Linked DNA regions of Homo sapiens. The protein of the gene in region 1 purifies or fractionates together with the protein of each later gene. This does not show direct contact. Each region holds a gene or a part of one and is shown on either strand. Other genes may lie near its edges.

Evidence for each region. The genes of interacting proteins can lie anywhere in the genome.
Region 2: the proteins of SEPTIN3 (region 1) and BTBD9 purify together in Homo sapiens (affinity purification with mass spectrometry; 3 studies listed by BioGRID and IntAct, with this or other methods). This does not show direct contact.

The regions. Positions count from the first base shown.
Region 1 is NC_000022.11:41,996,082-41,998,721, reverse strand, and holds the end of SEPTIN3 (neuronal-specific septin-3), read right to left. Parts: exon of another isoform or gene 1,821-2,640; coding exon 1,755-1,820; 3' UTR 501-1,754; downstream 1-500. UniProt on the Homo sapiens protein: Filament-forming cytoskeletal GTPase. May play a role in cytokinesis.
Region 2 is NC_000006.12:38,171,441-38,174,929, reverse strand, and holds part of BTBD9 (BTB/POZ domain-containing protein 9), read left to right. Parts: 3' UTR 1-3,489.

The DNA.
Region 1 (2,640 bases):
GTAAGGAGGAGGAGGAGGAGGAGCGAGACCGGGTCACGTGGTGGGGCAGTGCCCGGGGAGCGGGGCGGAGTCAGGGTAGAGGCCCCCGCCGAGAAAGGGGAGAAAGAGGCGGGCCCTGAGAATTGGCTCGAGCGCGAAGGGGTGAGTGATAGGTGAGTGGCCTCCCGACCTCACCTGCCCCCTTAGCCCCCTGCCTTTAGGTATGGACTTGGGTTGGTCCTGTCAGGAATGATCTCAGCTCACTGCACCTCCAACCTCCCATGCTCAAGCCATCTTCCCACCTCAACCTCCCATCCATTACTCACTTTGGTTATGAAACACTAGAAAATAATGACTGAGGCCCGACCTGACGCCAACTGAAGATGAACTGACCTCACAAAGTGTTTTCATCTCTAATATCTGTGGCTATTTCTTACCAAGAGAGTCTCACCCTCCACACATGGGTGAGATGACATAATGGCTGATTTGGTCAAGGAGCACAAATAAGACAGGCCAGGCAGTTACTGTTCAAACAGCAATGTTTAGTTGTACAACACATAAAGTCTAGCAACAATTACAGGACCAGTTTGAGTGTCTGTTTGCTTGTTTTCAATTGGGAAATTTAACTGTAATGTCACCGTAAGATTGGCTGGGACTGGTAACATTTAAGAAACGGGTTGTTCTTGCATCCCCTAGGCGTGGGCCTCTTGCTCCATCAGGACTTGGTTGTAGATGAATGGCCCACAAGTCACCAGCCTTTGAGCAAGTTGTGTCCAGGTGGAGACAGGAAGAGGGTGGGCAAAGGGGAATTCTATAAAGACACAGTGTGTGGGGCAGTGGCAGTCAACATTCGCAAACATTCATGCATCTGATGGGGGGCTTTGCCCTCCCTTGGGTATTTTCCATTAGCCTACAGTGACCACCTGTGGTCAGGCTAATTCATTACTCACATTAATGGGGAAGGGGGTTGGGGGTAGGAGTAGGTAGGGTAGGTGGGAAGAGATCCCTCTTATTGCTGAGTGGACAGAAGGGTGCTAGTTTTTCCTTAGCGTGTACATATTGTGGGTTTCTGGGGGTTTGTGTGTGTGTTTAGTTTTTGTTTGTTTGTTTGGACAGAAGAAAGTCAACTCCAGCAATGTCTTCTTAGGAAAACCACTCTTCCTCAGTGGCTGCGTTATGAGGTGGGGAGGATGTACAACCGCACTCTGGGACAGCCACAAGTGGTGATTTTTTAAAAAGTGATCCTAGCCCTTGCTCCCCAACATCTGTAGTGACCCACCCTCATGAATATCTTTAAGTAATGAAGGAGACACCCTTGTCCCACTTTGGGGCTCACACAGCTGATCTCAATGAATCTAGTAAGCAGAAAAATTGCTTTCTTGACCCTTTAAGGAAGCCAAGAGTAGCTCATGCAGATGAATGGGTAGGGAGCAATGCCATTGCCCTTAGAGATGGTTACAAGTAGCTGGGATGGGCTTACAAGGGCAGAAGGAGCTCTTGATGAGTTCTTTCACCCTGCAGATGGGCTAGGACCGGCTGACGCAGATGATGCAGTAGGGCTGTACTGGCAGAACCCCACTCCACTGGGAGGAGAGGAGTGGTTTGGATAAATGGAGGATGCAACTGGCCTAAAGAGGCAGCTGGCCCCTCCCACCTACTGAGGGCTGAGAGGGGCTGTGGTGGTGAGCTGGACGAGCACAGCACTAAAAAGGGCTTGGCCCTGCAGCAATAACAGCTGAGAGGAATGGAGTGAGAAGCAGCGCTTGAAATGGCCTTCATTCAGCAGTGGGGCAGGGGGTGGCTGGCACAGGTGGAAGGACAGTGCCCAGGAGGCCTTCTCCCTGCAGGGGGGTTGAGAACGGTTGAGGGTGTGGAGACCAGCAGCTGGCAGCAGACATATAAAATACCTTCTCCAGGGAGGCTCAGATCATGGTTCAGGGGTGCCAGGCACCATTCCTACTCAGCCTTTCCAACGCCCACCTCCCATGCCCATAGATCTTCCCCTGCTGGTCCAAGGTCTCCATACAGGACTGCTTCTACAGTAGCCAAGGATCCCTGTTCTGTTGAAATGTATAACCTCTGGGCTGTAGCGCTGCTGCTGTTCTGTCCTGACAGGTGCCTACCCTGTAACTTTGTGAGCAAGGGAGGATGAGGGCTGGGTTGGCAGCCTCCAGGAAAGACCGAGAGCATAGGTTGGGGTCACTGGTGACCTGATCACCGCCCCCCTTTCTCCTGGTCCATTGAATCTTGGGTCTTGAGTCTATGTTTTTTTTCCTAGCACCTGAGTGATAAAAGACTGGGATTATAAGTGCTGGGATTCATAGAGGACCAGTGAAACACCTAGGCTGAACCAGGAGATGGGACAGAAGGTTGTATGAGGTTATTGTAAACAGTTTCACTTAGTGTTTTCCCTTCCCTAAGGCTAAACTGTTTCCCTGGCCCCGAATTTCATGAATCTTACAGATTAAAGGAAAAGAGTAACTTACTTGTACAACAAGCAGGGGAAATATATGCATTAATAAATACAGGGCTTCAGGGAAAGGCAAGAAAAGCCTAAATGTATGACGGTGGGTATCATTGGGAATGTCTACAGGAGTCAGGAGGAGAGGGAATTAGGGAAAAGTAGAGAAAGACAGACATAAATATGATTAGCTTCAGCAC
Region 2 (3,489 bases), on another chromosome or scaffold:
CTCCTCCCTGAGCAGGGGTCTCTGTTGACTGCCCCCACCTCTGCCCCTTTCCAGGGAGGAGCCGACCTAGCTGCAAAAGCAGACACCGAACAGGTTTTCTCCCAAGGACAGAAAGGGGCTGCTTTGTTCTTCTCAATTTATCCAAATCAGGCAGGTCTCAAGGGGGAGAAAATGGGTCTTCAATCTTCATCAAGTCCACCATTAACACCCTACCTCTCTAATCTAGCCCAGGCGCAGGGAACAGGAGGAAGTCATAGACAGGCCTGTGTTGGAATACAAAAATGGCACGCAAACACTCAGGCGGAGGAGAAAGCCATTGGGCCTTTGCTACCTGGAGGCACCCTTTAGGAATGGGCCTCCATAGAGTGTTCATTCTGCTGGAATACATTGCCCTGGCAACTAAATGATTTTTTATTTGTTTTAGTTATTCTCCACTCAGTGAATCATAGGTGTTCCGGATCTATTTGAAATGCTCAAACAGCAAATCACTAGTTTTAATCCCTTTTGATGCTATAATTTTCCTTCCTTGGTTTTGAACGGTTCAGCTTGCGGGGACAGAGACCCATCGTGCATGTCTCCTAAATGAGACACGGATGCAGCTCATCCTGGCACTTGGGCCACAGAGGAAGTGCCACAAATGCACACAAGCAAATCAACCTGTGGACACTGGAGTTAATAGTCACTCGTGTGGCTGAGTTACTCACCTGTCATTCCTGACATGGATCCAGCCTTTAAGCTTGGGAGGCTGACAAGGAAATAGTTACTATGCCCGCTGCTAATTCACTGTTCCGAAGTCCATGTAGATAAACATATACCGAGTTCTGGCGTGGCCAAACCTGCCGGGGACTGCCGTGGCTTAGCTGCCCCTCCAGTTGTGTTTATCGAAGCATTGGAGAGGCAGCCACCTGCCCATCAGCGTCAGGAACGCAGAACTGGGACTCCGTGCTTCCCCCACACCACAGTACTCAACTGGGGACTGAAAAATAGCAGTTCCAAGAAGCTTTTCTCCTAATCCTCATCAAAAGGACCTCATTTGACGATGGTGGCTTGATGTGGCTCCGTCTCCTACTTAGTGATTTCCATTCCAGTGCTGCCTGCCCTGGGTAACTGCGCACAACATTGCCTGCCCCTCCGCTGTCCCCAGAGCTCCGGCCTCTGTCGCCATCAGCATCAGCCTGGGAGTCTCCCCAGGACGGCATGGCACGTGAGCAGCACTGCAGTCCTTGGGTCTTCGGCGCCAACCTGCAACCCTGATCAAAGGAGGGTGAGGGCGTGGGAGTTTCCTTTCAGGTGTGTCAAAGACATATCAGCTGCGCTCTAGAAAGAGCCAACGGGTCAGCCGCTTCCTCCTAGTTTAACTTGATTTTGAGTGATTTGTCCATATGGAAATAGTAGGGTAGCATCAAACTGCGTGATTAAATTGGAAGACTGTCTTTCCGTGTGAACACAGGATGGCAGACATCAGAGGGCTACCGGGGCAGGGTGGACACGTTCCTGAGGAGAAGCCAGGGTCTGCAGCTCTCCATCCTCCCCGGTAGCTCCAGCTGCAGGGCTGAGCTGCTTCCTATCCCCTCAGCTCTGATCTCTGCCACTTCCCTGTTGTGTGGGAGAGTGGAACACTCCTGGGATGCCAGGCATTTCATAATGGGAGGAGGCTCCTGTAAGGAACGGTGGGCGCCCGCTCACAGTGGGGGGCCCTCCAGCATGGTTGCTGACTCTGTCAGCCCCCAGCCCCGGGTTGCCAATTAGCCAGAGAGCTCCTGCACACACAGCACTTCCTTCCCCAGTGTGTTTTCTACCCAGATGGGGACAAAGGAGCCAGACAGTCATATCAAGGGCAGAGTTCAAACATTTTGAAATGAGCCATTCACATGCTTCTTTTTAAACATGGGCATCACCTGCCCAGAGGCCCTTGGCCTGAAGCAGCATGCTGCTGACCTTGGGAAGAGAGGGTGGGCTGGTGGGGGTGCTGGAGGAGCTGCCCGGCCCTGCATCTGCAACCCTCCAGTCCCCTGCCCACAGAGCACGCAGAGCCCTCCTGTGCTCCGGGAACGAGATAGCAGCTTGGCAGCTCGGCCTCGCATCTGAAAAGGAATACGCTGCAAAGCCTCGGCCCTAGACCCACATCTGCAGCTCCCTGGCCTGTGGCGGTTCTTTCCTTCGGGGCATGCCCTTCCAGATCTCTGTCCCTCCTGTCTTCTAGCACTTTAAAGATGCCCCTTATCATCAGATAAAGAGAAGTATGGGGACGATGGGGTGGCACTAACAGTAGATGTCATTGGTGAGGACTGATGGCAAAGTCTCATTCCCTCACAGCCGCGCTGCCAGCTCGCCTCCCCCTCGCTTTGCTGGGAGCCTGCCCTGGACTCCAAAAGGACACGGGTTCACCTCCTTTCCCAGGCTGGAGGGGTACTGCCCTTCCCTGAGGGGCCTTCTGACTGGGGCAGGAACTCTTTTCGTGTGTCCAGCTGGGCCTGGAGGCCAAGTCAAGGTGTGTCACACCACACACCAGGGCAAGGACCTCATCTCCAGGGAACAGGGACAAGTGAGTGGCTACCAGAAAGTCCCCGGGCAGCCTGGAGTTCCCCAGAGCCTGGCTGGTCCTACAGAGCACTTCTCCCCTGGGCCACCAGGACCAAAGCGACCTAAACACTTGAAGCTAAAAGCAAGTGCTGATGATGGGATGGGCTGGCACGTGGCTGGGAGGGCTCCTGGGCACCACAGAGCCCTCAGCCCAGCAGAGAGTGGAGGCTCAGTCCGTGGGGAGCGGGGGTTGTGAAGGAGACATGGCCAAGCCCCTGGTCGGGGAGATAAGCTCCCCCATGCCCAGGCCAGCCCCAGGGGCAACAAGCCAACATGGAGAGAGGTGGCAGGTGAGGCTGACAGGTGGGTGCCTGTGGCCTGGGCCCATGAGGGCAATGGTCCTCAGTAACCAATGGAAAGGACACAAGGGCGCCATGGTCACCACCACCCAGGCAAAGAAATGGGAGGTGGCCAGCACCCCCACCCTTCACTTTTCATTATTATTATTATTATTATTATTATTATTTTTTTTTTTTTTTTTTTTTTTTTTTTTTTTTTTTGAGAGTAGAAAGGCAACTTCATTGGAGCTTTTGGGGAAAAAAGCCTTCAAAGTCACCTTCTGGCAGCTCTGGGGAGGGTCATTTGGGGTGGACTGAGAGTGTAGGGCAGGTAGGGTGTGTGCTGGGCAGCAGCTGTGTCCATGCAGCCAGCACCCAGCAGGGCAGTCTCACAGGAGCCGTTGTGAGCACTTTGGACTTGAAGCAGCTATGAACCACCCCCCGCCCCCACCGTCTCTCCCTCTCACACACACACACACACACACACACACACACACACACACACACACACACCCGTTTTACCATTTTCTCAGTGCTTTTTCTGCTTTCATTCCTTTGATTTTAGTTAGAAGCACAAGCCATGATGGATGTGGGACTCTTCTCAATTGCTCTTTAAATTGTCACTTTT